7 linked regions of the Homo sapiens genome follow. The protein of the gene in region 1 interacts with the protein of each later gene in a biochemical or structural test. Each region holds a gene or a part of one and is shown in the gene's direction. Other genes may lie near its edges. The genes, in order: RTKN, MAST2, LDB3, MAGI3, GRID2IP, RHOA and CARD11.

What was found.
Region 2: the proteins of RTKN (region 1) and MAST2 interact in a test that uses a peptide from one of them, tested with the Homo sapiens proteins (one large-scale study listed by IntAct).
Region 3: the proteins of RTKN (region 1) and LDB3 interact in a test that uses a peptide from one of them, tested with the Homo sapiens proteins (one large-scale study listed by IntAct).
Region 4: the proteins of RTKN (region 1) and MAGI3 interact in a test that uses a peptide from one of them, tested with the Homo sapiens proteins (one large-scale study listed by IntAct).
Region 5: the proteins of RTKN (region 1) and GRID2IP interact in a test that uses a peptide from one of them, tested with the Homo sapiens proteins (one large-scale study listed by IntAct).
Region 6: the proteins of RTKN (region 1) and RHOA form a complex in vitro, tested with the Homo sapiens proteins (8 studies listed by BioGRID).
Region 7: the proteins of RTKN (region 1) and CARD11 interact in a test that uses a peptide from one of them, tested with the Homo sapiens proteins (one large-scale study listed by IntAct).

What each region holds. Positions count from the first base shown.
Region 1 is NC_000002.12:74,431,282-74,435,661, reverse strand, and holds part of RTKN (rhotekin), read left to right. Parts: intron 1-2,995; coding exon 2,996-3,195; intron 3,196-4,380. UniProt on the Homo sapiens protein: Mediates Rho signaling to activate NF-kappa-B and may confer increased resistance to apoptosis to cells in gastric tumorigenesis. May play a novel role in the organization of septin structures.
Region 2 is NC_000001.11:46,016,084-46,020,463, forward strand, and holds part of MAST2 (microtubule-associated serine/threonine-protein kinase 2), read left to right. Parts: intron 1-3,512; coding exon 3,513-3,614; intron 3,615-4,380. UniProt on the Homo sapiens protein: Appears to link the dystrophin/utrophin network with microtubule filaments via the syntrophins. Phosphorylation of DMD or UTRN may modulate their affinities for associated proteins. Functions in a multi-protein complex in spermatid maturation.
Region 3 is NC_000010.11:86,727,258-86,731,637, forward strand, and holds part of LDB3 (LIM domain-binding protein 3), read left to right. Parts: intron 1-4,380. UniProt on the Homo sapiens protein: May function as an adapter in striated muscle to couple protein kinase C-mediated signaling via its LIM domains to the cytoskeleton.
Region 4 is NC_000001.11:113,648,391-113,652,770, forward strand, and holds part of MAGI3 (membrane-associated guanylate kinase, WW and PDZ domain-containing protein 3), read left to right. Parts: intron 1-846; coding exon 847-938; intron 939-2,623; coding exon 2,624-2,816; intron 2,817-4,380.
Region 5 is NC_000007.14:6,544,549-6,548,928, reverse strand, and holds part of GRID2IP (delphilin), read left to right. Parts: intron 1-4,380.
Region 6 is NC_000003.12:49,373,706-49,378,085, reverse strand, and holds part of RHOA (transforming protein RhoA isoform 1 precursor), read left to right. Parts: intron 1-2,494; 5' UTR 2,495-2,496; coding exon 2,497-2,652; intron 2,653-4,380. UniProt on the Homo sapiens protein: Small GTPase which cycles between an active GTP-bound and an inactive GDP-bound state.
Region 7 is NC_000007.14:2,945,806-2,950,185, reverse strand, and holds part of CARD11 (caspase recruitment domain-containing protein 11), read left to right. Parts: intron 1-2,398; coding exon 2,399-2,611; intron 2,612-3,098; exon of another isoform or gene 3,099-3,589; intron 3,590-4,229; coding exon 4,230-4,367; intron 4,368-4,380. UniProt on the Homo sapiens protein: Adapter protein that plays a key role in adaptive immune response by transducing the activation of NF-kappa-B downstream of T-cell receptor (TCR) and B-cell receptor (BCR) engagement.

The sequences.
Region 1 (4,380 bases):
ACTGTGATAGAGTTAGTCTTCCAACTCCTCTCTGAAGCTTTCCTTGATCACCTCAGCCAGAAGCAAACAGAGGCTGTTTCTTGTGAGCATGGTTGTGCCATGACATGGCACTTATGGAGCAGCCATTAAAGTCATCATCTCTCACCTCCCAGCTGGATTTTAAATGTACAACCTTGGACAGTACAGGGATGCTCCAGTGTTGACTGAGTAAATGCTGCTACCACCAAAGTATAGCGTCATTAAAATAAGCATCCCTGCCATTAATGTATACCACATGCTGGGCACTGTGCTAAGTGCTTTAAGTTCCTGCCTCACAGAATTCTCACAGCCCTAGGACTATTTCCATTCCTGATTTACAGATGGGGAAACTGAGGCTTAGGGAGGTTGAGCAAATTGCCCATTGCTTTTTAAGAAGCAGGACCTCCAGGGCTCCTTTCTAAATGAATGTTCCTGAGAATCCTGGTGTCTCTTCCAGGGCCTCTCAGCTGGCCCTTATCCACAGTCCCTCATTCCTGGACCACCTACCTTCCCATCCCCATTCCTTGCCTCTGACCTCATCTCCCAAGCTCAGAGGGCCGGTAGGTGGTGATTCTCTTAATTTGGGGTGTATAGGTTTCTGTGCAGCGTCAGTGAACACTGTAGGTGGTATGCTCCTTGTCCACTGATCCCTTGCCAACTAGATGTCCCTGGCATCACTTGAGTCTGAGGGATAACTCTCATTTGCCTTTCCTTCTGTCCATTCCCATGAGTTGGTGGTTCTCAACCTGGGTGTACCTCAGAATCACTTGGGGAGTTTTCCAAAAGTACATATGCCCCACTCCTAGAGATTCTTATTCTGCAAATCTTAGGTAGGGCCTGATCATTTTTTTTTAAACTCCAAAGATCTAATATTTTTTAAAGGAAATACAATTTCCAGTAGTACAAAGGGTATATATAAAGTATCATTAGGCTGGGCGCAGTGGCTCAAGCCTGTAATCCCGCACTTTGGGAGGCCGAGGTGGGAGGATCACTTGAGGCCAGGAGTTCGAGACTAGTCTGGCCAACATGGCGAAACCCTGTCTCTACTAAGAATACAAAAGTTAGGCCAGGCATGGTGTCTCACACCTGCAATCCCAGCACTTTGGGAGGCCAAGGCGGGTGGATCACCTGAGGTCGGGAGTTTGAGACCAGCCTGGCCAACATGGTGCAACCCCGTCTCTACTAAAAATACAAAAATTAGCTGGGTGTGGTGGCTCACACCTGTAATCCCAGCTACTCCGGAGGCTAGGCAGAAGAATTGCTTGAACCTGGGAGGCGGAGTTTGCAGTGAGCCGAGATCATGCCACTTCACTCCAGCCTGGGCAACAGAGTAAGACTCGGTCTCAAAAAAAAAAAAAAAAAAGAATACAAAACTTACTCGGGCGTGGTGGCACATGCCTGTAATCTCAGCTACTCAGGAGGCTGAGGCACAAGAATCACTTGAACCTGGAAGGTGGAAGTTGCAGTGAGCTGAGATCGCGCCACTGTACTCCAGCTTGGGTGACAGAGTGAGACTCGGTCTCAAAAAAAAAAAAGTATCATAAATGTTTTCCATCCCTGGCTCCCAGGCCTACAATCACTAATATTTTATGCATAAACATGCATATCTATATCTATGTATATATATGCATGCATACATATATATATATCATGCACAAATGGTAGTATGTGCAATACTACCCTTCTTTTCTCACATCATTTATTTTGGAGATTGTTTCATATCTGCATACATGTGCATATCTCTTTCCTTAATGTCTGCAATACTACAGGGTACAGATGTACTGTTACTTATTTAACCAATGTCCTACTGAAGGGGTTTTAATTTTGGTGTTTAAAACAATGCCACAATGAGGCCGGGCGCGGTGGCTCACGCCTGTAATCCCAGCACTTTGGGAGGCCGAGGTGGGCGGATCACAAGGTCAGGAGATCGAGACCATCCCGGTTAACACTGTGAAACCCCGTCTCTACTAAAAATACAAAAAAACAATTAGCCGGATGTGGTGGCGGGCGCCTGTAGTCCCAGCTACTTGGGAGGCTGAGGCAGGAGAATGGCATGAACCCCAGGAGGTGGAGCTTGCAGTGAACTGAGATCGTACCACTGCACTCCAGCTTGGGCAACAGAGCGAGACTCCGTCTCAAAAAAAAAAAAAAATGCCGCACTGAATATTTTTGTATGTATGGCTTTACCTAGATATATGTGAAATTATATGTGTAAGATAAACTGCTAGGTATTGGATAGCTGAATTAAAGGATATATGAATTTGTAGTTTTCATAGATTTTTTTCCAAATTGCACTCAAAAGAGGCTGAAGGAATTTATACTTCCAACCATCAAATGCATGAGGGCATCTCTATTTTTCTTATTTGTTTTATATATATATATATATGTTTTTTTTTTTTTTGAGCCAGAGTCTTGCTCTGTCGTCCAGGCTGGGGTGCAGTGGTGCAGTCTCGGCTCACTGCAAGCTCCGCCTCCCGGGTTCATGCCATTCTCCTGCCTCAGCCTCCCAAGTAGCTGGGACTACAGGCGCCCGCCACCACGCCCTGCTAATTTTTTGTATTTTTAGTAGAGACGGGGTTTCACCGTGTTAGCCGGGATGGTCTCGATCTCCTGGCCTTGTGATCCGCCTGCCTCTGCCTCCCAAAGTGCTGGGATTACAGGCGTGAGCCACCGTGCCCGGCTGTTATATATTTTTTTAGAGGTGGGGTCTCACTATGTTGCCCAGGCTGGCCTTGATCTCCTAGGCTCAAGGGATCCTCCCACCTCAGCCTCCCTCACACACCACTGCACCTGGCTACAAAGCTTCTCTGGTTATTCGTGGGCAGCTGAGATTGAGACCCAATGCCTGCTCTTGAACTGCCTAAAACATTAGTTTCTTGTCAGTTTTACTGGCCACAGCCCACCTGGGGACTGGGGAGTGCTTTAGCCTGTCCACTGACTGACATTTCCTTCTCACCCTTCCCCCAACCCTGGCTAGGACACGGAGTTGCAGAGGAAGCTAGACCATGAGATCCGGATGAGGGAAGGGGCCTGTAAGCTGCTGGCAGCCTGCTCCCAGCGAGAGCAGGCTCTGGAGGCCACCAAGAGCCTGCTAGTGTGCAACAGCCGCATCCTCAGCTACATGGGCGAGCTGCAGCGGCGCAAGGAGGCGCAGGTGCTGGGGAAGACAAGCCGGCGGTGAGCAAGGGGGAGACGAGGCCTCGATGGAGGCAGGAGGCCTTCTGGGTGGTGGTGGTGCAGCATGTGCGTGTGTGGCATGTGGACCACCTTAAAGATGACTTCCCCATGAAGTCTTATCAGGGACCTGGGAGAGACCTTGGTGTTTTACCACCACTGTGTGTTGCCCAGAGGCGCATTTGTGAGTAGCCAGGGCAGGACTTAGAAAAGTCGGTGTGTCTGGTGAAAGGTAGCTGATCTGAAGGGTAGCAAGTAATGCAAAAGCACTAATTTGCTAAGCCCTGTCTGTGATCCAGTAAGACTGGCTATCTGGCTTTTGGAAAATTAATTTCCTCAACGCTGGTTCACAAAATCACCAATTTACCACATACTGACAATAGTTTGTTATATCTGGGGTTCACCTTCAGAGGCAGGGAGTGGGAAAGGAAATAAGAAACCACTTAAGGAAAGCCTACCCATTCAAACAAATTAGATTGTGCATTCTAAAAGGGCTCAGCTTCTGGATGTAAAATGTAAGCAACACTGACATTAGACTGTTGATCTGACAAGTCTATAATGACTTAAGTGATGCCATGATAAAACCAAAATATTGGGGAAAATATTTGGCAAATTATTCTAAGAATATGCCAATTTGGATAAAGTGGTCATTTGGAGAACTGGTTTTTAGGAAAGTGGCCTACTTACTCCACTGAGGCTGCTAGGGGAAATAGTCCCAGCCCCTCACAGGTATGGTGCCCATTCCAGCCATGAAGGCTGACACAAGAGGAGGTTGCCAGGAGCTCACCCATGAAGCTACCAGAAGAAGGCAGAAAACCCACTGTATGGCTATCCCATGAAGCTAGAGGAAGGGCAAGCTGGTGGGGGGACAGCCTCTGAGAGGCAGCATGGACAGACTCTGTCCTGCCAAAGTCCTCACACAGCCCACACAGGTGATTTGAGGTACACCCCAAGTGCCTGGCAGCTAAACACATTGCCATTAGTGCCACATCATTTAGCTTAAGGCTCTACTAAGTCAGTAATTACTTTAGTGGCATTATGAGTAAGTACAGATGAACTGGCAGTCGCTTCAGGAAAGGGACACATGGTGAGTCCTGATGATGGGCAGGGAGGGAAGGAAGGTGGGGTGTCGGGCCCTGCAGTGGGGTGTGGGGGAGCTGCAGAACTTGGGGCACTAGTAGGGTACAC
Region 2 (4,380 bases), on another chromosome or scaffold:
ATCTCAATAGATGCAGAAAAGGCCTTTGACAAAATTCAACAACCCTTCATGCTAAAAACTCTCAGTAAATTAGGTATTGATGGGATGTATCTCAAAATAATAAGAGCTATCTATGACAAACCCACAGCCAATATCATACTGAATTGAATGGGCAAAAACTGGAAGCATTCCCTTTGAAAACTGCCACAAGACAGGGATGCCCTCTCTGACCACTCCTATTCAACATAGTTTTGGAAGTTCTGGCCAGGGCAATGAGGCAGGAGAAGGAAATAAAGGGTATTCAATTAGGAAAAGAGGAAGTCAAATTGTCCCTGTTTCCAGATGACATGATTGTATATCTAGAAAACCCCATTGTCTCAGCCCAAAATCTCCTTAAGCTGATAAGCAACTTCAGCAAAGTCTCAGGATACAAAATCAATGTACAAAAATCACAAGCATTCTTATACACCAATAACAGACAAACAGCCAAATCATGAGTGAACTCCCATTCACAATTGCTTCAAAGAGAATAAAATACCTAGGAATCCAACTTACAAGGGACGTGAAGGACCTCTTCAAGGAGAACTACAAACCACTGCTCAGTGAAATAGGATACAAACAAATGGAAGAGCATTCCATGCTCATGGGTAGGAAGAATCAATATCGTGAAAATGGCCATACTGCCCAAGGTAATTTTTATAGATTCAACACCATCCCCATCAAGCTACCAATGACTTTCTTCACAGAATTAGAAAAAACTACTTTAAAGTTCATATGGAACCAAAAAAGAGCCCGCATCGCCAAGTCAATCCTAAGCCAAAAGAACAAAGCTGGAGGCATCATGCTACCTGACTTCAAACTATACTACAAGGCTACAGTAACCAAAACAGCATGGTACTGGTACCAAAACAGAGATATAGATCAATGGAACAGAACAGAGCCCTCAGAAATAACGCTGCATATCTACAACTATCTGATCTTTGACAAACCTGAGAAAAATAAGCAATGGGGAAAGGATTCCCTATTTAATAAATGGTGCTGAGAAAACTGGCTAGCCATATGTAGAAAGCTGAAATTGGATCCCTTCCGTACACCTTATATAAAAATTAATTCAAGATGGATTAAAGACTTAAACGTTAGACCTAAAACCATAAAAACCCTAGAAGAAAACCTAGGCATTACCATTCAGGACATAGGCTTGGGCAAGGACTTCATGTCTAAAGCACCAAAAGCAATGGCAACAAAAGCCAAAATTGACAAATGGGATCTAATTAAACGAAAGAGCTGCTGCACAGCAAAAGAAACTACCATCAGAGGGAACAGGCAACCTACAAAATGGGAGAAAATTTTCGCAACCTACTCATCTGACAAAGGGCTAATATCCAGAATCTACAATGAACTCAAATTTACAAGAAAAAAACAACCCCATCAAAAAGTGGGCGAAGGACATGAGCAGACACTTCTCAAAAGAAGACATTTATGCAGCCAAAAAACACATGAAAAAATGCTCACCATCACTGGCCATCAGAGAAATGCAAATCAAAACCACAATGAGATACCATCTCACACCAGTTAGAATGGCAATCATTAAAAAGTCAGGAAACAACAGGTGCTGGAGAGGATGTGGAGAAATAGGAACACTTTTATACTGTTGGTGGGACTGTAAACTAGTTCAACCATTGTGGAAGTCAGTGGGGCGATTCCTCAGGGATCTAGAACTAGAAATACCATTTGACCCAGCCATCCCATTACTGGGTATATACCCAAAGGACTATAAATCATGCTGCTATAAAGACACATGCACACGTATGTTTATTGCGGCACTATTCACAATAGCATTTACTGTTTTTCTTTCCTTGTATCCTATTTACTACTCAATCTTCTGCCTTCCAGTTTCCCTTCCCACCAGTCTACCAAAACTGTTCAGGCAAAATTCACCAAGGAACTCACTGGCCAATTGCCAAATCCTGTGGCCACTTTCAGTTCCCATCTTCTGCCACCTCTCGGTGGAGCACAGTGAATACTTCCTAAACTTCCTTCCCCAGTTGTCAATTCACTGTTCTCACCACTCTTGCTGCCTCTTCACAAGTTCCTTTGCTGCCCACCTCTTCCTACTGGTGTGTCACAGGGCACCATCCGGCATGCCTGGTCTCCCCTTTCTCTTTCCTCCACTCTCTCTCTGATGTCTTGCCACCTGCTCCCATGTCTTCAGTTGTCATCTCTACGCTGAGGACTCCCACATGTGGCTGCCACTCTTACTGTTCTCCTGAGCTTCAGATCAGTGCACCCAGCTGCCTGCTGGACTCCTCCACTTTGACTTCCCTATATTGGTTCTTATTCTTTGGTTGCACGTAATAGAAACTGATTCAGAATAGTTTAAACAGTAAAGGGAAACATTATAAGAGTAAAAGGAGTAGGTCTTAGAGAATTGAAGCGAGGGATATAACCAGGCCTTAAGAAGGAACCAGAACTAGAAACCAGAAGCTCCAGGAAGCTCAGGAAGTCTTCATTCTTCCTTTTTCTGTATGCATCTTTTCCTCTATTTCCATGGTAGGTATGCATCTCTTTTCACAGTTCTTAAACGGTTCTGCCACACTGACGTTAACAGTTGTCTTTCTATCCTTTTTTAAATTCCTAGGAAAGTGATCCTCTCTGGTCAGCTATTAGAGGTGGGAGGGAAGGTACAGACACACAGTACAAATGTGGCTCCTAGAAACCAGAGCAGTTCTCAGGAAAAAAGAGAAAGGCCCATCGGCCAAGCAGATACCCAAGAGACTCTCATATAGGTGCCTGAAACTGCACGCCCAGAACTGAGCTTATCTTTTCTGCCTAGCTGTTCTTTCTCTAAAACCAAATGCAGTACATTCTTTACCTATCACCTAAATGGCTTCTTATAGTTACTATTTCACTTATTCATTGTAATTTTCCTAAAATTGAAGTTGTAGTTGCCTTCTGTCGTGCTTCTTTCACCCCTTATCTGCTTCTGTAGTAACCCACGTCTATCCCCTTGTCTGCATTCTTCTGCCTTGACCTATGCCTTTTTCATCTGAATTATTAGAGTTGCCTGCTAATGGGTTTTCCTGCATTTAGCCTTGCCCTCTTTAGTGTACTCTCTACACTGCAGCCAGAGTGATCCTTCTGAAGTACTTTCTGGTCATATGACTCCTCAGCTTTGAGGTCTTTCTACTCCTTACAGTCTAGGGTGGAAAGTGAACATCAGTGAAGGCACCATTGAGAGCTGCCCCTTGAGCTAGGGTCTGGAGGGTAAGTGAGGCTTGTTGGATGGAGGAGCAGGTACAGCTGTATGTCTGTGTGGCATTTCTTGGTGTCATGTAGTGTTCTAAAGCAGAAATGGTTCCCTATGAGCAACTCGCTCCCTCTCACAGCCAGCCAGCCTTCTCTGAGTTCCTTGCTTTGCGGAGCTCTCTATGCTACCGAATTGTTTCTCCCTGGAGTCAGCTCTGCCCTGTCTGGTCCTGCTTAGCCCAGCCACACTGGGCCAATAGATTAAGCAACGCTTCTTTTCTCTATAGGCTCATGAGCGCTCAGAGAGCTCAGAAGTGGCTTTTGTGATGCAGCTGGTGAAAAAGCTGATGATTATCATTGCCCGCCCAGCACGTCTCCTGGAATGCCTGGTGAGTGGACTCTAGGAAAGTCAGGTGGGCAGATTTAGAGGAGGACTATAGAGGAAGTATCCTGATGACAGCAAAACTGTGGTGGTAACCACTGCCATTTCTGTTGCTTAGGTCCTTATTTAAATATGATTTGCCACCATTGGGGGACTAAACAGGTTTTTGTGAGGACAAATGTATGGTCCTGAGGGGATGCGGCAGGGAGAATTATTAGTCTAGGCCACCCCCACATGAGCAGGGCTCACATCAGTGGGGGTCTTGGGGGTGAGAAGCGTCAGGAGCATAGCCCAGTTTAGTTTGTACAAGTTGAGTCCTTCATTTTATCTTCAGCAATACTTGACTGAGTACCTACTTCCTGCTAGACACTGGAGATACAGACATGAATAAAGCACAGTCTCTGATCTTGGGATGTTTCCTCTACAGTGGAGTTGGGAAGCATGAGGCATGAGGACATGTAAATAGTAATTACAATACTGCAAGAAGTGTTGCAGTTGAGGTCAGTACACAGCGTAACGGGAACCTGGAAAAGGAAGTGCTTTAGTCTTCCCTGGAAGGAACATTCAGTGAATGCTCCCTGGGGGACGTGAGGCTTATTCAGCAAACTGAAGGATGAGTCTAAGTTTCCCAGATCGGGAGCATGGGAAGGAGCATTCAGTGGGGCACAGGGTGGGTTTGAAGAAGTGCTGAGGGGTAAGCCTGGAAGGTAGGCTGTGACAGGGTCATGGAGGGTGTCGGGTTCTCGGCTCTGGAGTTTTTCATTACCCTTACG
Region 3 (4,380 bases), on another chromosome or scaffold:
GTGATTCACCCACCTTGGCCTCCCCAAGTTGTGGGAATACAGGCGTGAGCCACCACGCCTGGCTGATTTGGGAAAATTAAGACACCTCTACTATTTTTTTTTTAACCAGAGTGTCTCAAGGTAAATTTTGGAAATGTATGAAATATCTGTACAGTTTTTACTTGAATAATTTTTATAGACTTCTGACATAGGATGACCCTAGTCATAAAGTTTACGGCCATATACTTTTGGTTCCACACTTCGCTTCCATACCCCGCCATCTGTGGGACACACTGTATTCACTCTGTGTGTCGGTTTGCTAGGGCTGTCTTGACAAATTACTGCAAACTGATGGCTCAAACAACAGAAATGAATGCTTTCACAGTTCAGGAGGCCAGAAGTCCTAAATCAAGGTGCTGACAGGAGGCCATAGTCTCTCTCCGAGCTACTAGCGGTTGCTAGCAATCCTTGGCATTTCTTGGCTTGCAGCTGTGTAACTCCAATCCCTGCCTCCATTGTCACAAGCCTGTCTCCCCTCTGTGTGTGTCTTCACATGACATTCTCCTCTGAGTGTGTCTGTCTCTGTGTGGGTCTCCTTTTTTTTTTTATTTTTTTTTTGAGATGGAGTTTCCCTCTTGTTGCCCAGGCTGGGGTGCAATGGCGTGATCACAGCTCACGGCAAACTCTGCCTTCTTGCACGTGAATTTTGTGGAATACAATTCAACCCCTTAACACTCTGATTTTCTAGCTCTTTGAACAGATTCTCTAGTTGTCTTTTAGGGTGTTTTAAATACATCCCCTCCAAAAAGAGACAATGGTGTAAGTATACTGGCTTTGGGTTTGTCCCCTGCAGAGTCATAGCTCCCCTGTGTCAGGCACAGCACAGGGGTCTCTGAACCTTACATTCAAGCCATGGCTTGTCTAGTCCTGAGGCACTGCCTGCACATCTGGTTACCCAACTTCTGGAAGGATCCAAGAGACTTGGGGAAGGTCCAGGAAGACAGTGGCACAGAAGGCCTGTTTTCCATGGGCAGGCTGATGAGAGGTCTGTGTCACATGCAGAGGGAATCGTGGCAAAGGTGAGTGTGGGTCTGCTTCTGCAAGCCTCGCAATTTCAGCTGAGTCACAACAGCAAAAGTCCAAGAGAGAGACCAGAAGAAGGCGTAAAGCTTGGGGTGGCTAAGGCTGATATTACAAATAAGTTCCAGAGAGTGAAGTCCAGCCTGTGAGAGGCCCATAGCACTGCCCTTTAGAGGATCAACATGGAGATCGTTAGGTCTCCCTCCAAACCAGCCTGCATGATACTCACTGCTCTGTCAACATATAGCAAAGTGGAACATGGTTCTTTTGTTTTTTTTTTTTTTTGAGACAAAGTCTTGCTCTGTCGCCAGGCTGGAGTGCAGTGGTGCGATCTTGGCTCACTGCAACCTCCACCTCCCAGGTTCAAGCAATTCTCTGCCTCAGGCTCCTGAGTAGCTGGGATTATAGGCGCCTGCCACCACACCTGGCTAATTTTTGTATTTTTAGTAGAGACGGGGTTTCACCATCTTGGCCAGGCTGGTCTTGAACTCCTGACCTCATGAGCCACCCACCTCGGCCTCCCAAAGTGCTGGGATTACAGGTGTGAGCCACCACACCCAGCCGGAACATGGTCTTAACATTAGGAAGAAATCTTTTGATTGGAAAACTTTGAGGGACTTGAGGGATTTTTTTTTTTTTGGTCCTCTTTCTATCACTTCATATTTCCAAATCACTTTTGATGAGCATGTATTTTCCTGTAACTTCCAAAAAATTAGTAAGAGAAAGATCTGGGGTAGCTCTCCCAGCTGATGTGCTGTTTTCTAACCAGTGAGATCTCAGGATAGCACATTCTTTAGACTAACTCAGTTTACCAAATATTCCTGGCATTTGGGCAGTACAAGAGTGTTCCAGAACAAGTCTCTACCCTGACGGAATCTAGAATCTTGAAAGGTGAACAAAGCAACAGATGTGAGCAATTCAAAAGTAGAACAGGACAGTATCCCTCAAGTCCAAAGCATATAAAGTGAAGGCTGGGAGCCTGAGAAGTGCACTGTGGGTCAGGGTGAAAGTTAAGCTTCTGTCTGGCGTCGACACTTGAGTTCCAATGGAAAGGGTCCGACCTTAGTGGAGGAAAAATGTCTTACCCATCCCTCTTTTGCTCTAAGTCTTGCCCTTCCCCACTGGTGTGGGTATCAGGAGGGGATGGGCAGTAATATAACTTTTGTAGGCAGACCTAGGGGCTGCTGCAGCTGGCCTAGTTTATTACCCTAACTCTGCTGGGACTTGCAGTCAGCACTGTCCATGGTCGCTACCCTTTTATAGCCAGGCCCTGATGTCACCCAGCCACAGAGCCTGGGGGTTGGACCATCCCTGTTGCCCCCTGTGCTGGGTGGGCAGAAGGCCTCCTCCACTATGAAGCCACCTTGCACCAAGAAGACACTGGGCACAACTCCTTATGAGGGTTCCCACCCTCAGCCCCATCTCACCTATGAGCCATCTTTGAGGTTCTGTCCCTTTCTCATTTGTTGGTCTTCAGTCCCTGGACACCTTCTCTCCCCAGCCTGACTCATCCCAAAGTTCTCACAAGCAACCAGCATTGTCCCAGTCCAGGTATGGTCTCCCACCCACAGCTGCAGTCATTGACAGGCTGACTCATTCCAGAGATGCCTTTCTGTCTTCCCTAAAGCCCATTCTCACCAGTTAGATCTTGGATGTCCATCTTTTTGCATAGTCTTTAAATTGTCACCAGCAGCTTGAGGCCTCCACACGAGCCTGGTTATACTCAGCATCACTGCATCCACCTGGGATGTTTTCAAACACTTTTGCAGCTCATTGGCTCCCAGAACCCAATTGGAAGCCCTGTGTGATCCTAGGTATAACGTCCCCAACTGGACCATCAGAGCCTTGCACATGGGGCTAGCGTGGTGCCCTTTTCCTCTCCAACTCTCTTGGACTGAATACATGCATATTGCCCCAAGCTCAACTCAAGGGGGTGATTTCTCTGTCTCCATGGGGGATACCTGTATGTGGGGACTCCACGTGCACTCCTCTTGATGTCAGTGTCCTGGAGATGGCTCCCAATTCTGCCCCCCAGCAGGGATCTTCACTGCCCTCTCCTAAGCTGGGACCCATGCCAGCCAATGTGATTTCCTGGCAGACTCTGACCTACTGGCATATTGCCAACCCAGGGCCCAGCTTACATACTAGTAGTCCAGCAAACTCAGAGGGCTACATCTGTACAAACCCATGAACCCAGATCAATTTCAAGTAAACACAGTCCCTTTCTTCTATGGGGTAGGGGAAAAATTAGCATAGAACTGGAGTCTTACAGACATGGACAGAGATTCCCAGCCTACAACTTACTAGGTCTGTGACTTAAGGAAGACGTATGGGCCCTCTGAGCCCCAGTTTTTTCAGCTGTGAAGTGGGAGAAAGGCTTACCTACCTTATAAGGTTTTCATGAGAATTAAATGAGCTGCTGTATATAGAGTGTCTGGCATCCTGCTTGGTCCATGGTAGTCCCCACAAATATTAATTAGTTCTCTTCTTTCTGGGATGCCTCCAGCCTCAGACTATATGTTGTCATCATGGGGATATAGAATTTCATCTCTTGGGCTGGGCGTGGTGGCTCACGCCTGTAATCCCAGCACTTTGGGAGGCCAAAGCAGGTGGATTGCTTGGGGTCAGGAGTTTGAAACCAGCCTGGCCAACATGGTGAAACCCTGTCTCTACTAAACTACAAAAAAAATTAGCTGAGTATGGTGGTGGGCGCCTGTAATCCCAGCTACTAGGGAGGCTGAGGCAGGAGAATTGCTTGAACCCGGGAGGCAGAGGTTGCAGTGAGCTGAGATCGCGCCACTGCACTCCAGCCTGGGTGACAGAGTGAGACTCCATCTCAAAAAAAAAAAAAAGAATTTCATCTCTTTTGTTTTTTTGTATATTTCTCTGCATACTTTTCCATATCTACCTTTTTTTTTTTTTTTTTGAGACGGAATCTCGCTCTGTCGCCCAGGCTTGGGTACAGTGGCATGATCTCAGCTCACTGAAACCTCCGTCTTCCGGGTTCAAGTGATTCTCCTGCCTCAGCCTCCTGAGTAGCTGGGATTACCAGTGCGCACCACCACACCCGGCTAATTTTTGTATTTTTAGTAGAGACAAGGTTTCACCATGTTGGTCAGGCTGATCTCAAACTCCTGATCTCGTGGTCCTCCTGCCTCGGCCTTCCAAAATGCTGGGATTGCAGGCGTGAGCCACCATGCCTGGCCCATCTCTCTTTTTAAATGGTGGCATTCCATTGGAAAAATACACCATGAAAATTTACTGAATCATCTTCCTATTGAGAGAAATTTTACTAGTTTTCAGTTTCTAGTTGAGCACAGG
Region 4 (4,380 bases), on another chromosome or scaffold:
ATAGATTTTTGTGACTTAATATTCTTTTTTTTTTTTTTTGAGATGGAGTCTTGCTCTGTTGCCCAGGCTGGAATGCAGTGGCACGATCTCAGTTCACTGCAACCTCTGCCTCCCAGGTTCAAGCAATCCTCCTGCTTAATATTCTAAGGAATACAACCTACCCTTTGAGGGTAGGACAGTATGAGTTAGGAGATTAGACCCTGGAAATCAACCTGGATTTAAATCTTAGCTTCACCACTTGCTATGTGACAATGGCCAACTTACTTACACCCTCAGTTTTCCCACCTAGAAAATGGGGCTAATAATAAATGTTAGCTCTTAATTATTTTCCTTTAAAATGCTATCATTTTGCAAAACTAGGCTAGGTAAGTAGTTCATATGGAATACTTTTCTGAGAGAAAGGTATTAGCTTGAGAGCAGGAATAAGGTATTTTACAGGCACTCTATACAGCAGTGCCTGTACAGATTTAATGTACCTTACCCAAGTGTTAACTTAGGTCATTTGCACCTGTCAAATATCAAACTCAAGTTTGATCATTCTGAATTCAACATTGTTATATTGATTGGACAGCATTAGAAGTTAATGGCAGTGTAATACTGAGTATATGGAAGTGAGAGTAAATGTTTCTAAACAGTCTTCATACAGTTTTGTTTAGAGCTCAAAACGAGGATTTATAGTTGAATTGTGTGTGTGTGTTACACTCTTGTGCAAATTTTCCATATTAAAAAGTTCTGAGATTATAGTTTATTGAGTTACTCTATAATATCCTACTAAATACTGAACTTTGTTTTGTTTTAATCCTTTTAAAATAAATCATAGTATTTATATTTTCTGATTTTCCTCAGCACCAAACACCAAAGATTTGGATGTTTTTCTTCGAAAACAAGAGTCAGGGTTTGGCTTCAGGGTGCTAGGAGGAGATGGACCTGACCAGTCTGTAAGTGTCACTTCTTTGGAACATGGCTGTTTCCTGTTCAAACGTTTTGAGTGGTGATTTGGTGGATTATGGTGTGTTTTAAGTTTTTTTTTCTCTGACAGTTTCATTAATATGAAGAATAACTGCATTTCCATTATTATCATAGTCCCTCAGTTATTGTGGTGTAGCTGAGGCTAAAAACTGTGGGTAAAAACTGAATATGTCAGCTGCAAATTAGACAGTGATTAATTTATTTACTTCTCTGTGTGAATAACTACATAAAGCTTATTTTAAGTTTATATTTTCCTTTGCCCTCATTAAACAGAGTCTAAGACATTTTCCTTCTCTAAGAAGCCTATAATCCCATGTCCTCTTTCCCACTATTACTCTATCTTCTGGATGCTCCATAAATGGTTGGCATGAGCCTGTGCATATTGTTTCACCTCGTCTTATTAATAGGTTGGCATTTTCATGCTCAGTACTTTGCATGTCATTTCATCTGTTACCTTTGAAACTAGAGGAATATAAAATAATTAATATTTTTGTCCAGAGGCATAAGGGTTATATTTGCAAAGCATTTGAAGTCTAGGATTTTGTTTACACATGATTCTCACATAAACTTGTTTTAGAGAACAAATGTAGTGGGTTTTGTTTCTAAGTTTTGCTCTTGGTTTGAATAACAAAGAAGTAATGTGTTCTGTAGCATTTTTAAGAACATATTTGCATTTTATTTTATATAATATCAATATATTATATATCAAAAAATATGGTTGGAAGTTAGGTGAAGAACAATAATCTTTAAAAATTACAGGCTTCTTATTTCTGAATAGAACATTTGATTTATGTAGTATAAATTTGTTCTAATTGGTCATATTGGTTACAGTTACAACAGTCATTGGAGACACATAAAGCTTAAGGCAGGTTGCCCTATGTAGAACAAATACTAGATACTTTAATTGTTCTTGGTATTTGTATTTTTGTTTTATTGCTTCCTATTTTGTTGATACTCATAATGTTCACTTAGACATTTTAAGAATTTGTCTCAAACAACTTAGAAGAAACCTTTCTTTTCTCTTAAATGTCAGATTTTAGCAGCTCTGAAACTAGCCTAAACATTCAGGATTGCCTAATTACAGGATTCTAATGCTGGTGAGCAAAATGAACCAGATTTGTTCACCTAGATGCAAGTGAAGCTTCAGGCCACTCTGTTCCCGCTGAGATTTAGAAACAAGAAATGTCTCTGTGCTGTGTATATTGAACTTGTACCGTTAGTCATATGTGATGGGAGTACTGTTGAGAATGATCCCAGTTGCTGTGAACAGTATGTAGAAAATCTTGCCTGATGACATTGAACAGACTTTTAATAGCTACTCTGCAGATTTATATTTTCTGAGTTTAGTGTTTTGTTTCATTGTAATGATAGGGATAATGGTTGTGCTTTTTGAGTTATCGAACAACTTTGTATTTTCTATTTTCTTTGTACACAGCCCTGAGGATCTATAAGGGATTACATAATACAATGTGGTTATTTGAAGTGCCATTTTGGAGAATGGGCACTTTCTCAGATAATACCTTTCTAAAATATAACTGTTTTCATAGTTGAACTGCAAAAATCTGTTGGTTTGCACAATGCTAAGTTAGGAATTCCTTAACTCTTCAGCTAAACTTTACACTGTGGACCAAACTGTACTTTGTTATCTTATCAGATATATATTGGGGCTATTATTCCCCTGGGAGCAGCTGAGAAAGATGGTCGGCTCCGCGCAGCTGATGAACTAATGTGCATTGATGGAATTCCTGTTAAAGGGAAATCACACAAACAAGTCTTGGACCTCATGACAACTGCTGCTCGAAATGGCCATGTGTTACTAACTGTCAGACGGAAGATCTTCTATGGAGGTGTGTGAACTTGTTCCTGCTCTGAAAAGTTAAAAAAGAAACAAAGATACTAGTCTACTTCCTGTGTAGTTTTGCAGGTTATTTTATTACATTCAGTAGTATCTAAGATAACCCATTTGGTGTGATCCAGGGCCTCACTGTGGAAGGCTATGCAAACACAAAAGGATTCAGAAATAATACTACTATAAAAAAATAAATTTTGGGCTTCTATATTAAGATTATTTTCATATATTGATGCATTTTGCAAATGTATTATAGGTGGGAGTATTGATTTAAATCCGGTTTTGTTTTGTTTTGTTGAGTTGAGGTAGAGTCTCACTCTGTCACCCAGGCTAGAGTGCAGTGGTATGAGCTCAGCTCACTGCAACCTCCACCTCTTGGGTTCAAGCGATTCTCCTGCCTCAGCCTCCTGAGTAGCTGGGATTACAGGCACACACCACCACACGGCTAATTTTTGTATTTTTAGTAGAGACGGGGTTTCACCACATTGGCCAGGCTGGTCTCGAACTCTTGACCTCAAGTGATCCACCTGTCTCAGACTCCCAAAGTGCTGGAATTACAGGCGTGAGCCACTGTGCCCAGCCTAAATTTGTTTTGTTTTTTTTTAAATAACAAATACAAAATTATTTAGTCATACCAAGATATCCCACTAGCTGAATATACAAAGATTTTTGGATCCCAGTGAAATCTGAGCTACTAAAGGAAAGTAGGATGTTTCTACTTGAGAAGTTTTAGTATAATTTAACATTTATTGAGTGCTTACTATGTCCTAGATGCATGGATTATTTTATTTAATCTTCACAACACTATGAGGTCATTATCTAGTTCTATGATTACTCAGAGAAAGGTTGAGAAACAAATAACTGGTAAGAGGTAGGGCCTGGATTAAAAGTTGCAGTTTAATTCAGAGATCAGGGTTTAAACCATAGCATTAGGATATGAATATCTCTTATAGTTTCTCGCCAGTAGCTTTATGAATAATTAAATAGAAATTCTTATAAGTGAATTCTTTCCACTTTAAAATTAAAAAAATACAACTCTGTAGCACAAGAATATAAGCCTCATGAAGGTATGAATTTTTATTTGTGTAGTTATCTGCTGTAAGCTCGGCACCTAAAAGAGTGCCTGTCTGGTACAAAGTGGACATTAATAAATGTTGTTAATTGGATGAATATTTACATCACTCTTAAAAATGAGGCACTGTATTTTTTATTGCAACATTCAAAGTAAAGGCCTGCCTCCTTTGGTAAATACCAGGCATTTAGAATGCATATAGATTGTAATGCAGTACTGCCTCAATTTGGTTGTGTTGGAGGCCAAATGTAACTACTTACAGTAAAATTGTGATGTTATACAACCTACGCTCTTCCCTGGAAAGAATCATGAAGAAGTTTCATAGTAGTTTGGTATTATTGGAGACATTTTAGCTAATACATTCTAACTATGCATTTTGAAAAAAAAAAAGAAAAAAACATATTCTTAAAACCATGTGAATTTTCAGCCAGAAAGAGACCTTATAAATATGGACATGACTGCAGTGTGTTGTGGTTATTATTAACGATGG
Region 5 (4,380 bases), on another chromosome or scaffold:
GACCCCTGTGGACATGAAGCCTGGAAACTCAGTATTTGCTTGGCGGCTGGGACACTTAAGCTCATAGACTTTTTTTTTTTTTTTTTTGAGGCAGAGTCTCGCTCTGTCACCCAGGCTGGAGTGCAGTGGTGTGATCTCGGCTCACTGCAACCTCCACCTCCTGGGTTCAAGTGATTCTCCTGCCTCAGCCTCCCGCGTAGCTGGGATTACAGGCGTACCCCACCATGGCCAGCTATTTTTTTTTTCTGTATTCTTAGTAGAGATGGGGTTTCACCATATTGGTCAGGCTGGTCTTGAACTCCTGACCTCGTGATCCATCTGCTGCGGCCTCCCAGAGTGCTGGGATTACAGGCGTGAGCCACCGCATCTGGCCAACTTTTTTTACATTATTTTGATTTTTAATTTTTGTGGGTACCTAATACGTGTATATATTTATGGGGTATCTGAGATACTCTAATACAGGCATGCAATGTGAAATAAGCATGTCATGGAGAATGGGGTACCCATCCCCTCAAGCATTTATCTTTTGAGTTATAAACAATCCATCTACACCGTTTAAGTTTGTATTTATTTTTTTTGGAGCCAGAGTCTCGCTCTGTTGCCCAGGGAATACAGTGGTACGATCTCGGCTCACTGCAACCTCCGCCTCCCGGGTTTAAGCAATTCTCCTGGCTCAGCCTCCCAAGGAGCTGGGATTACAGGCCCCCACCACCATGCCTGGCTAATTTTTGTATTTATAGTAGAGACACGGTTTCACTATGTTGTCCAGGCTGGTCTTGAACTCCTGACCTCAGGAGATCTGCCTACCTCGGCCTTCCAAAAGTGCTGGAATTACAGGTGTGAGCTACTGCACCTGGCCTAAGTTATTTTAAAATGGACAATTAAGTTATTATTGGCTATAGTCACCCTGTTGTGTTATCAAGCTCACAGACTTTTCCTCCGTGGAAGGGAATCTGCTCAGTTCTGCCCCAGCAGCACTTGGCCATGGGGTTTGGGAGGTCAGGGAGCCTGGAAACTTTGTCGGAGTTTGACTATTGCAGAAATGCCTCCCAGCCCACTGCCCAGGCATCAGGTCCCCACCCACTCTGGCCTCCTTCAGTGCCCAAGCTTGGTCCAGTCCTAACCCCTTCCAAATTAACCCCCTCAGGAGTGTCTCCTCCATCATGTACCCTAGCCTGATCCCCTGAATGGGCTTTTCTGACCCTGAGTAGACCAGCCTCTGTGGCCAGATACACACACTCGCATACACACAGGACTCAACTCCAGCTTCCCTACATCACCAAAGTCCAGATCTTCCAAAGCTGTGACTTTCTTCCTGTACCCACAACAGGCTCTGCTGCTATAACAAACAAACCCAACATTTTTTATTGTTGTTGTTTTTGAGACAGGGTCTAGCTCTGTTGCCCAGATTGGAGTGCAGTGGTACAATCATAGCTCACTACAGCCTCCAACTCCTGGGCTCAAGTGATCCTCCTGCCTCAGCCTCTCTAGTAGCTGGGACCACAGGTGTGCACCACCACACCTGGCTGATTAAGAAAAAAAAAAAAGACTGGGGAGATGAGGTCTTGCTATGTTGCCCAGGCTAGTCTCAAACTCCTGGCCTCAAGCAATTCTCCTGCCTCAGCCTCCCAAAGTGCTGGGATTATAGGTGTGAGCCACTGTGCCTGACCCAAAATCAACAACTTAGTGCGTTTGCACTACAGAAGTTTACTTTTCACCCACAGAGTCCTCTAGGGGGTCAGTAGACTTTCTAGGGTGGCTTGATGTCCATACGAGGTCTCAGCATTTCAGACTCCTCCATCTCTATGTGAAGCTTCAGGGTTCCCTATGGAAGAGGAAGAGAGCTTGGAAAATTGTGCATCTCCTCTTAGAACAGCACCTGTCCTCAATGCTCATTGGGCAGAACTAGGTACACTGCTCCTCCCTAAGGATGCTGGGAAATGTAGTCTAATGTGTGTCCAGGAAAGAGGGAAGACCTAGAAATATTGGTGAGTGCGAGTAATGCCTGCTACAATCCCAGATCACCTGCCATGGAGCCAAAGGTCTATCCCAGACTCCATCTAATCCCTGCAGAGTTGGAAGGGGGCACGTTCAGAGCTCCAAACAGGGCAGGATGCAAGAGAAGACCTGCCCAGGAGCAGGGCTGGGCAGCAACCCGCTGAGGGTAGAATCCGACAGGCTGCCCAGGCCAGCTGCAGTGTGTTTTCTGGCAAGGAGGAACGGGGAAGTGGAGGATTTTGGTTAGGGCTCGCTGGGCACCCACAAAAGCTGAGAGTGAATCTCCAAAAATGACTTCCTCTGGAAGATGAAGGGCCTCCGTGGAGCCCAGTTGGTTTTCTATCTTTTTTTTTTTTTTTTTGAGACAGAGTTTCGCTCTTGTTGCCCAGGCTGGAGTGCAATGGCGTGATCTTGGCTCACTGCAACCTCCGCCTCCTGGGTTCAAGCAATTCTCCTGCCTCAGCCTCCCAAGAAGCTGGGATTACAGGCATGTACCACCACGCCCGGCTAATTTTGTATTTTTTTTAGTAGAGACAGGCCAGGCTTGGTGGCTTGGCTGGGCACGGTGGCTCACACCTGTAATCCCAGCACTTTGGGAGGCCGAGGCAGGCAGGTCACCTGAGGTCAGGAGTTCAAGTAGAGATGGGGTTTCACCATGTTGGTCAAGCTAGTCGCAAACTCCTGACCTCAGGTGATCCACCTGCCTCTGCCTTCCAAAGTGCTGGGATTACAGGCATGAGCCACTGCGCCAGACTGGTTGGTTTTCAATCACCAGCCCTCCAGTTCTCGCCTGCGCTTTCTGCCTGCCCCAGTTTTTCCTCCTTGAAGTGGCTGATATTTAATAGAAAATCCATTAGTGTCCCGTGATGATACCTCATGCTTAGATGTAGGCTGAGAACATCTGGGTAATAACTGACACCGAAACCGCACTGTAGCACGGGCCCCAGGAGGGAGGAACTATTTTTTCCTCTTTCTTACATAAAACATCTCTGCAGCCAGCCATGTTCTCCTTTGAATTGAGGTTGCTGCTGACTTTGATTTCCAAACTGGCAACCTTCCCCAGCACGGCGCGTGCGTGGGGAGGGGGCGGCTGGTGCTGCCAGCCTGGCCCACTCACAGGGAGGGAAACAGTGGTGAGCTGGGGCCTGCAGGAAGTGCAATGCAAGGCTGCTTTTTGATTCAGTCCCATCCACATTCTCTGAGTGCCTAATATGTGCCAGGCGCTGTGCTTGGGGCTGGACAAGCATGAGACCCCGGATCATCACACCTGGGTGGGGGAGACAGACGGTTACACAGACTCATGGTGCATCTGTGCTAGGATTCAGACGTGTACAGAACGTGGCCTCTGACTGGAAACCCTCGAAGCTTCCCGCTACTTCTCCTCCCCTTTTGGAATCATCTAGAAAGCGGGTGGATATACAGTTCCAGAGTTCAAGAGCGAGCTCTCGGCTGAAGATCGAGGTCTGAGAGTCACTGTCTGGGGTTCTTCGCCAGAGCTGGGTCGTGGAGAGCCTCAAGTGCAATAGTGAACTGCAGTGGCAAAGGGCAGTGGTACAGAAACAGCACGTGTAGACGGCTCCAGACTACAGAAGGGAGGAGAATGAGCAGCTTTCAGGATCAAAGGAGGATTGTCTTTTATTTATTTATTTATGGAGACAGGGTCTTGATCTGTCACCCAGGCTGGAGCTCAGTGGTGTGATCATGGCTTACTGCAGCCTTGATTTCCCGGGCACAAGAGATCCTCCTACCTCGGCCTCCCAAGTATCTGGTAGCTGGGAATACAAGCGTGCACCACCATATCTGGCTAACTTTTTACTTTTTCTTTTCTTTCTTTTTTTTCTTTTGAGATGGAGTCTGTCTCTGTCACCCAGGCTGGAGTGCAGTGGCGCGATCTCGGCTTACTGCAAGCTCCGCCTCCCGGGTTCACACCATTCTCCTGCCTCAGCCTCCCGAGTAGCTGGGACTACAGGCGCCCGCCATCACGCCCACCTGGCTAATTTTTTTTCTATTTTTAGTAGAGACGGGGTTTCACCGTGTCAGTTGGGATGGTCTCGATCTCCTGACCTTGTGATCCGCCTGCCTCGGCCTCCCAAAGTGCTGGGATTACAGGCATGAGCCACCGCGCCCGGCTGTCTTTCATTTTTTAGAGACAGGGTCTGGTTATGTTGCCCAGGCTGGTCTCCAACTCCTGGCCTCAAGTGATCCTCCCGCCTTGTCCTCCCAAAGCTCTGGGATTATAGGCATGAGCTGCTGTGCCCAGCTTGTTATTTATTTATTTATAGCCTGAGAGAGACTTGAACATTTATATAAGCTGCAGGGAATGGAGAAGTAGATATACTGAAAACCATGCAGGCCGGGCACAGTGGCTCACACCTGTAAACC
Region 6 (4,380 bases), on another chromosome or scaffold:
CTTCTGCCTCCTGGGTTCAAGCGATTCTCCTGCCTCAGTCTCCCGAGTAACTGGGATTACAGGTGCCCACCACCACACCCGGCTAAGTTTTGAATTTTTTGTAGAAACGGGGTTTTGCTGGGTTGGTCAGGCTGGTCTCGAACTCCTGACCTCAAGTGTTCTGCTTGCCTCAGCCTCCCAAAGTGCTGGGATTACAGGTGTGAGCTACCGTGCCCAGCCCAAAAAGAGTTCTTTATGATTTCAACCTTGCAAGAGATCCTGAGCCAGACCACCAACCTAAGCTGCTTTTTTGTAGTTGAGTCATAAGAGTTTGAGACAAGGTTCCACTCTGTCACCCAGGCTGGAGTGCAGTGATGCAATCATAGCTCACCACATCCTCCACCTCCTGGGCTCAAGCAATCCTCCCACCTCAGCCTCCTTGGTAGCTGGGACTACAGGTGCATGCTACCACAACTGGCTGATTTTTTTTTTTTTCTTTTCCTTCTTTTTTTAGAGACAGTGTCTCACTGGGGTTCCCCAGGCTGGAGTGTAGTGATGCAATCTCAGCTCACTGCAGCTTCCACCTCCAGGGCTCAGGGGATTATCCCACCTGAGCCTCCCAAGTAACTGTGATTAGCATGCACCACCGCTCCTGGCTAATTTTTTGTATTTTTAGTAGAGACAGGGTTTCACTATGTTTCCCAGGCTCGTCTTGAACTCCTGGACTCTCAAGCAGTCCACCTGTTTCGGCCTCCCAGATTGCTGGGATTATAGGCGTGAGCCACTGCGCCCGGCCCTTTTCTTTCTCCCCTCCCCTCTCATGCTTCCGTCCGTCCTTCCTTTCTCAGTGTCTCACTATGTTGTCAGGGCTGGTCTCTTAACTCCTGGGCCTGAGCATTCCTCCTGCTTCAGTCTCCCAAAGTGTTGGGATTACAGACATGAACCACTGTGCTCGGCCTCAATTGATTTTTCTTTTTTGAGACGGAGTTTCGCTCTTGTTGCCCAGGCTGGAGTGCAATGGCATGATCTCGGCTCACCACAACCTCTGCCTCCCGGGTTCAAGCGATTCTCCTGCCTCTTGCTCCTGTGTAGCTAGGATTATAGGCATGTGCCACCACGCCTGGCTAATTTTGTATTTTTGGTAGAGATGGGGTTTCTCCATGTTGGCCAGGCTGGTCTCAAACTCCTGACCTCAGGTGATCTGCCTGCCTCGGCCTCCCAAAATGCTGGGATTATAGGCGTGAGCCACCGCGCCCAGCCAAGAATGCTGTTTCTTTACAAACAAATCTAGATTGGTAAAAGAAGGAATATCCAAACTTAGAAAGATTGCAGAATGTCTACCCAAACAACCTGCCGATGACTTTTTTGGTTCTTTCCTCCCTTGGGTACTCCCTTTCATCAGTCCTTTCATTGTTTTTACCCTGCTTGACAAATTGTTTCCTTTTTTTTTTTTTTTTTTTTTGTGAGATGGAGTCTTACTCTGTCCCCCAGGCTGGTGTGCAGTGGCCCGATCTTGGCTCACTGCAAGCTCTGTCTCCTGGGTTCACGCCATTCTCCTGCCTCAGCCTCCCAAGTAGCTGGGACTACAGGTGCCTGCCACCATGCCCGGCTAGTTATTTGTATTTTTAGTAGAGATGGGGTTTCTCCGTGTTAGCCAGGATGGTCTCGATCTCCTGACCTCGTGATCCACCCGCCTCGGCCTCCCAAAGTGCTGGGATTATAGGCGTGAGCCACTGCGCCTGGCTCAATTGATTTTTTAATGTTAATATTGTATCCTGCAACCTTACTGAACTTGTTTATTCTAAAAGTTTTCTTTAGGATTTCCCACATTACAAAATCATCTCATGTGTGAATTGAGATAGTTTTACTTCTTCCTTTCCAATTTGGATGTCTTTTATTTCATTTTCTTACCTTATTGCCCTGGCTAGGACCTCCAGTATCCTGCTGGATAGAAGTAGCAAGAACAGGCCAGGCGTGGTGGCTCACGCCTGTAATCCCAGCACTTTGGGAGGCTGAGGCAGGTGGATCACCTGAGGTCAGGAGTTCAAGACCAGCCTGGCCAACAAGGTGAAACCCCATCTCTATCAAAAATTAGCTGGATGTGGTGGTACGTGCCTGTAATCCCAGCTACTTGGGAGTCTGAGGCAGGAGAATTGCTTGAACCCGGGAGGCTGGAGGTTGCAGTGAACTGAGATTGGGCCAGTGCACTCCAGCCTGGGCGACAGAGTGAGACTCCGTCTCAAAAAAAAAAAGAAGTGGCAAGAACAGACATTCTTGTCTTGTTCCTGATCTTAGGGGGCAGACCTTTTTTTCAGTCTTTTACCATTAAGTATAATGTTAGTTACGAGTTTTTAATGTATAACCTTTTGGTGCCAGGTGGATCGGCGTACTAGAAGTTTGAATTTGAGTATGCTAATAGAGGTTTATGCCCCATGGTTACCAAAGCATGTGTCATCCTGTAAGCTACCTATGACTTCTTGTGCATTGCAGGTAATATCTGTGTTTTGTGTTTCAGCAATGGCTGCCATCCGGAAGAAACTGGTGATTGTTGGTGATGGAGCCTGTGGAAAGACATGCTTGCTCATAGTCTTCAGCAAGGACCAGTTCCCAGAGGTGTATGTGCCCACAGTGTTTGAGAACTATGTGGCAGATATCGAGGTGGATGGAAAGCAGGTGAGTATACTTTTCATAACAACTGATGCCATTTTCCATGTTAGAATATTTATGGAGCATGTAGAGAATTAGAGCTTTTTGCCTCTTCAGTATACCATATAACAAAAATGTTGGAAAGAAGAATCCATTCTCATCCTGCCATCTTAGTCCAAGTTTGTTCTTTTTTTTTTTTTGGAGACGGAGTCTCATTCTGTTGCCCAGGCTAGAGTGCAGTGGCTCGGTCTTGGCTCACTGCAACCTCTGCCTCCCAGGTTCAAGTGATTCTCCTGCCTCAGCCTCCCAAATAGCAGGGATTACAGGCATGTTGCCACCATGCTGAGCTCATTTTTCGTTTAGTAGAGATGGGGTTTCACCAGGCTGGTCTCAAACTTCTGACCTCGGGTGATCCACCCACCTCAGCCTCCCAAAGTGCTGGGATTACAGGAGTGAGCCACTGTGCCCAGCCTTCCCCCAGGTTTAAAGGATTCTCCTGCCTCAGCCTCCCCAGTAGCTGGGATTACGGGAATATGCCACCACACCTGGCTGATTTTTGTATTTTTAGTAGAAATGGGGTTTCACTACGTTGGCCAGGCTGGTCATGAACTCCTGACCGCAGGTGATTGGCTGTTTTTTCATTTTTAACTGCTACTCATCCAGACTTTGTTTACATTCATATGTATTTGACATGGTGTCCTTAGCATATGTGTTTTTTTTTTGTTTTGTTTTGTTGTTTGAGACAGAGTCTCGCTCTGTCGCCCAGGCTGGAGTGCAGTGGTACAATCTCAGCTCGCTGCAACCTCCACCTCCCGGGTTCAAGCAATTCTTTTGCCTCAGCCTCCAGAGTAGAGTAGCTGGGATTACAGGCGCACGCCGCCATGCCTGGCTAATACTTGTATTTTGTAAAGATGCAATTTTGCCATGTTGGCCAGGCTGGTCTCAAGCTCCTGACCTCAGATGATCCACCTGCCTCAGCCTCCCAAAGTGCTGGGATTACAGGCGTGAGCCACCTTGCCCAGCCATATGTGCTCTTTTCAAGTTTACGTATATTTGAAGTTTAGTTCATTGCCATATAGATAATGCTCAGATGAACTTCTTTGTATGCTTGGACTTTGACAAAAATTCTGTCAAAGTATTTAATCAGATGTCCCAGTATTAGATTACTAGTTCAAGCTCTGCCTCCTGGGTTCACGCTGTTCTCCTGCCTCATCCTCCCAAGTAGCTGGGACTACAGGTGTCCACCACCAGACTGGCTAATTTTTTGTATTTTTAGTAGAGACGGGGTTTCACCGTGTTAGCCAGGATGGTCTCGATCTCCTGATCTTGTGATCTGCCCGTCTCGGCCTCCCAAAGTGCTGGGATTACAGGCATGAGCCACTGTGCCCGGCCAAAAGATTTTTTTTTACTTTAACATAAAATAGCCTGCCACAGTTGTTTTATTTTATTGTCATTGATGGTGAGAACAGTGCTTCCCCATTTCTGTCCTAAAAGCCCTCTGGCAAGACTGGAACAAAGCTCTTGTGAAATTGGAGGGTTTTTTTGGGTTTTAATTTTGGTTTTGGTTTGTTTTTGTTTTTTTTTTTAATCTTCTGCTTCCTTTTGTTGTCTAAGTAATGCTTTGCTTGGCCTCTCATACTTTTTTTTTTTTCTCTTAAATAAAGAGACAGGGATTGTACTTTGTCTCCCAGGCCTGCAGTGCTGTGACATGATCATGCAGCCTTGAACTCTTGGGCTCAAGTGATCCTTCCACCT
Region 7 (4,380 bases), on another chromosome or scaffold:
GCTATCATAAGATGTCTCTAACAAACTAACAGAACTAATAAATGATTTCACAAGGTTGCAGAATACAAGGTCAATATACAAAAATAAATTATATATCTATAGACCAGCAATGAATATCCCACAAATGAAATTAAGAAAAAAACTCCCATTTATAATGTCATCAAATTAATGAAATACTTAGGAATATATTTAACAAAAGAAGTGCAAGACTTGTACACTGAGAACTATGAAACATTGCTGAAAGAAATTAAAGAAGATTTAAAGAAAGACATCCCCCTGTTCATAGATCAGAAGATTTAATATTGTTAGGTAGCAGTACTCTCCAAATTGATCTACATATTCAGCAGATTCACTACCAAAATGCCAACTGCCTTTTTTGCAGAAATTGACATCCTAATCCTAAAATTAGGTAAAAGGCACCTAATAGCCAAAACAATCTTGAAAAAGAACAAGGTTGGGAGACCCATACTCCCAATTTCAAGGCCTACTACAAATCTACAAATCTTCGGTAATCAAGACAATGTAGTACTGGCATAAGGATACACATATAGATCAATGGAATAGAATCAATAGTGCAAAAACAAATGTTTACTTTTATGGTCAGTTGATTGTCAACAAGGGTAGCAAGATCATTCAATGGGGAAAGAGTAGTCTTTTCAAACAAACTGTGCTTGGACAACTGGACATCCACACATAAAAGAATGCAACTGGACCCCTACCTCACACCATACACAAAAATTAACTCAAAATGGATCATCCTCAATGTAAGAACTAAGGTATAATATTCAAAGGCAAAAAACAGGAGTAAGTCTTCATCATCTTGAGTTAGACAATGGTGTTTCGGATACATGCCAAGAGCACAAGTGAAAAAAAGAAAAAATAAATAAATTGGACTACCTCAAAATTTGAAACTTTTGTGCTACAAACAATGCTTTTAAGAAAGTGAAAAGACAACTGACAGAGTGGGAGAAAATATTTGCAAGTCATATATCTGATAAGTGGCTTGCATCCAGAATACATAACAAAATCCTACAACCCAATAATAAAAAGACAAACAACACAATTTTAAAATGGGCAAAGGATTTGAATAGACATTTCTCAATGCACACAAATGGCCAATATGCACATGAAAAGATGCTCAACATCGTTAGTCATTAGGGAAATGCAAATCAAAACCACAATGAGATGCTACTTCACACTCAGTAGGAGAGCTGTAATAAAAAAGACAGACAATAACAAGTTGTTAGCAAGAATATGGAGGAATTAAAACCCTCATGGCTTGTTGGTGGCAATGTAAAATGATGCAGCTGCTTTGGAAAACAATTTGGCAATTCCTCAAAATGTTAAATATAGAGTTGCCATATGGCCTAACAATCCACTCTTACGTATCTACCCAAGGGAAATAAAAACATACAGTCACACAAAAACTTTTACATGAATGTTCATAGCAGCATTGTTCATAATAGACAAAAGGTAGAAATAACTCAAATGTCCATTAGTGGATGAACAGACAAGCAAAATGGGGCATGTCCATGCAATGAAAAAATCACTGAGCAATTTAAAATAAGTGAAGTCCTGATACATGCTACAACAGGAACAAACCTTGAAAAGTTGCTGAGTGAAAGAAGCCAGACATGAAAGACCATAAATTGTAGGATTTCACTTGTATAAAATGTACGGAAAAGACAAATCTATACAGACAGAAGGTGAACGAGTGGTTACACAGGGCTGGAGGAGCAGGGATTAGAGGGAAATTGAGAGTGGCTAATAAAGGGTGAGGAGCTTCTTTTTGAAATGACGGAAATGATTTTAAATTGATTGTGGTGGTGGTTGCACAGCTCTGTGAATATACTAAAATCATTGAATTGAACATATTAAAAAGGTAACTTGTATGCTATGTGAATTACATCACAATAAAGCTATTTTTAAAAACGAATGACTTAGATCTATATGTATCCATCTAGATAAATCTCAAAAAAAAATGTAGAGGGAGAAAAACATGCTGAAAAAGGAAACGTACAGTATGACACCATTTATGTGAAATTTTAAAACAAAAGCCAATAGTATATATTGTTTAGGGAACTATACATTTTTAGTAAGACATAAAAACTTGGATGGAAAGGGTAGACTCAACCGCAGGATTTTCCCTCTCTGCCCTATAAATAATCTTTTTTAAAATTGATGGCTTAAACTTCCATTGTTTATGTTTAGCATATAAGGAAATATATATTTTTATATTCATAACCCCTTTCTTAGACAAAAGGTAAAATGCTATATATACTTTAGTGTACAGGACTTTTTTTTAACTTAATATATTCTAGAGGTCACTCCAGAGGAGTTGATAGAGCTGTTCCAGTGAGACTGCTTTATTAAGCTTGTTGGGGTTTATGTCTAAAAGGAGGAGGGCCAGAGATGGATGACTACATGGAGACGCTGAAGGATGAAGAGGACGCCTTGTGGGAGAATGTGGAGTGTAACCGGCACATGCTCAGCCGCTATATCAACCCTGCCAAGCTCACGCCCTACCTGCGTCAGTGTAAGGTCATTGATGAGCAGGATGAAGATGAAGTGCTTAATGCCCCTATGCTGCCATCCAAGATCAACCGAGCAGGTAACCTTAGGACCTCTTTGCGGGAGAGGGAGGGCTACCGCACACGGCAACTTCCAGACATACCCTTTGGTAGCTGTACCAAAATGAAGTTGCTCTAGGTCAGGGATTTTTAAACTGGGGTCCGCAGTCCATCACCTACTCATTTGTGTATAGAACTCAAGCTGTCTGTGTATGGAACTCAAAGGATCCATAAACTGGGAGGGGGGAAGAAATGCCATCTTTATTTTACCAACCTCAACTGCAATTCAGCATTGCCCTCAATTGCAAATGTCAGGAAGCCACAAATTACAGGAGTGATTAGTAATTCTTGTGACTTAGGCAACAATGAAAATTACAGATCTCTTCCTATCACTACAGTTACTGCAAATCTCTCAAAATGCCACTTACACTCATCTCTCTTTCAAAATTACAGTACTTATTAGACCTGCCGAGAGGTCTTGTTATTTAATGCATTAATAAAGAAGTATGTTACTGAAACACAAATTTATTTAATATTTGATAACTGGATTTTATTATAATTGGTTTCTTTTGTAATCTGATGTACTTTATCTGTTTAAAAATATTCCGAGAAGGGTTCCACAAGCTTTTCTAGCCTGACTTCTGGAGGGGGGGTTTATCATATTCAGTAAAGGTAATAAATATGGTTTGTGAAGCTTGTTTTAATTTTACATTATGTACATGTGTATACACATGTACTTGTAGAGTTATCTTTGTCTATGGTCACTAGACCACAATGTTAAATGTTTTTCTTTCTATGGATCAGTTTAGAAGGTTTGATAATCACTGTCCCCCAGCGTGGCTGGTGGTAAGTGGCTCATCAGCTGCGACTCTCTGGCATCCATGGCAGACATCAGTAATCAGCATGCTTTCCCACTGAGCTTGGATGTAACTTTGGAATGTTTCTCGAAACAGTACTGCAGGCGGCTTCACCAAACAATCGGGGTTGACATACCATCAAATTTATTTCTTCTGTCCGTCCTAGGGAAAAGGTCGAGTTTTAAGACCTACCTTTCTTCTTCTATATCTCAGAAGAATATCTGAAAATAAAATGTTTAAGGAAGGGCCCAGAAATGTAAGCAATAAGTGGAATCAATAGTATAGAAACTGGGACCTGCTGGGGAAATTACATTTAAGGTGTTTCCAGGTTGTGTAATAATCCCAAAGAAAAACCTAGAACTATCCCTACTTCCTATGATTTTTCCTAGCCTCTCACCCAAAGATTTGTCTTCCTGCTCTCAATCCCAGAGAACCATATATTATTCCATAATTTTTATCGTGCTTCCAACCTCCTTCAGTCATAGAAGACCTGGTGCCTACGTGGTTCATTTTGGCCCTGGTCAGTTGGGAAACTCTTCAAAACTGGGGCGGCAATTCCATTTATCCTGGTTCTACCAGTTTATTAGAAACAGAAAACTAACGCTCACCAAATCCCTGCGGAGGGCCTGGCACCTTGATTTACGTCATCTGGGCTCCAAGATACAACTCAGAAGTGATAGAATGTGGGGAGACTGTCTTCTTAGAGTTGATTGAAGGACACAAGTCCAGGATGAGACCAGCCACAGAGACTTGCGTTCCATCAGATATGTATTCTCACAGAGTGATCTGGTCTTTCCCCTAGGCCGGCTGTTGGACATTCTACATACCAAGGGGCAAAGGGGCTATGTGGTCTTCTTGGAGAGCCTAGAATTTTATTACCCAGAACTGTACAAACTGGTGACTGGGAAAGAGCCCACTCGGAGATTCTCCACCATTGTGGGTAAGTGCTTTTG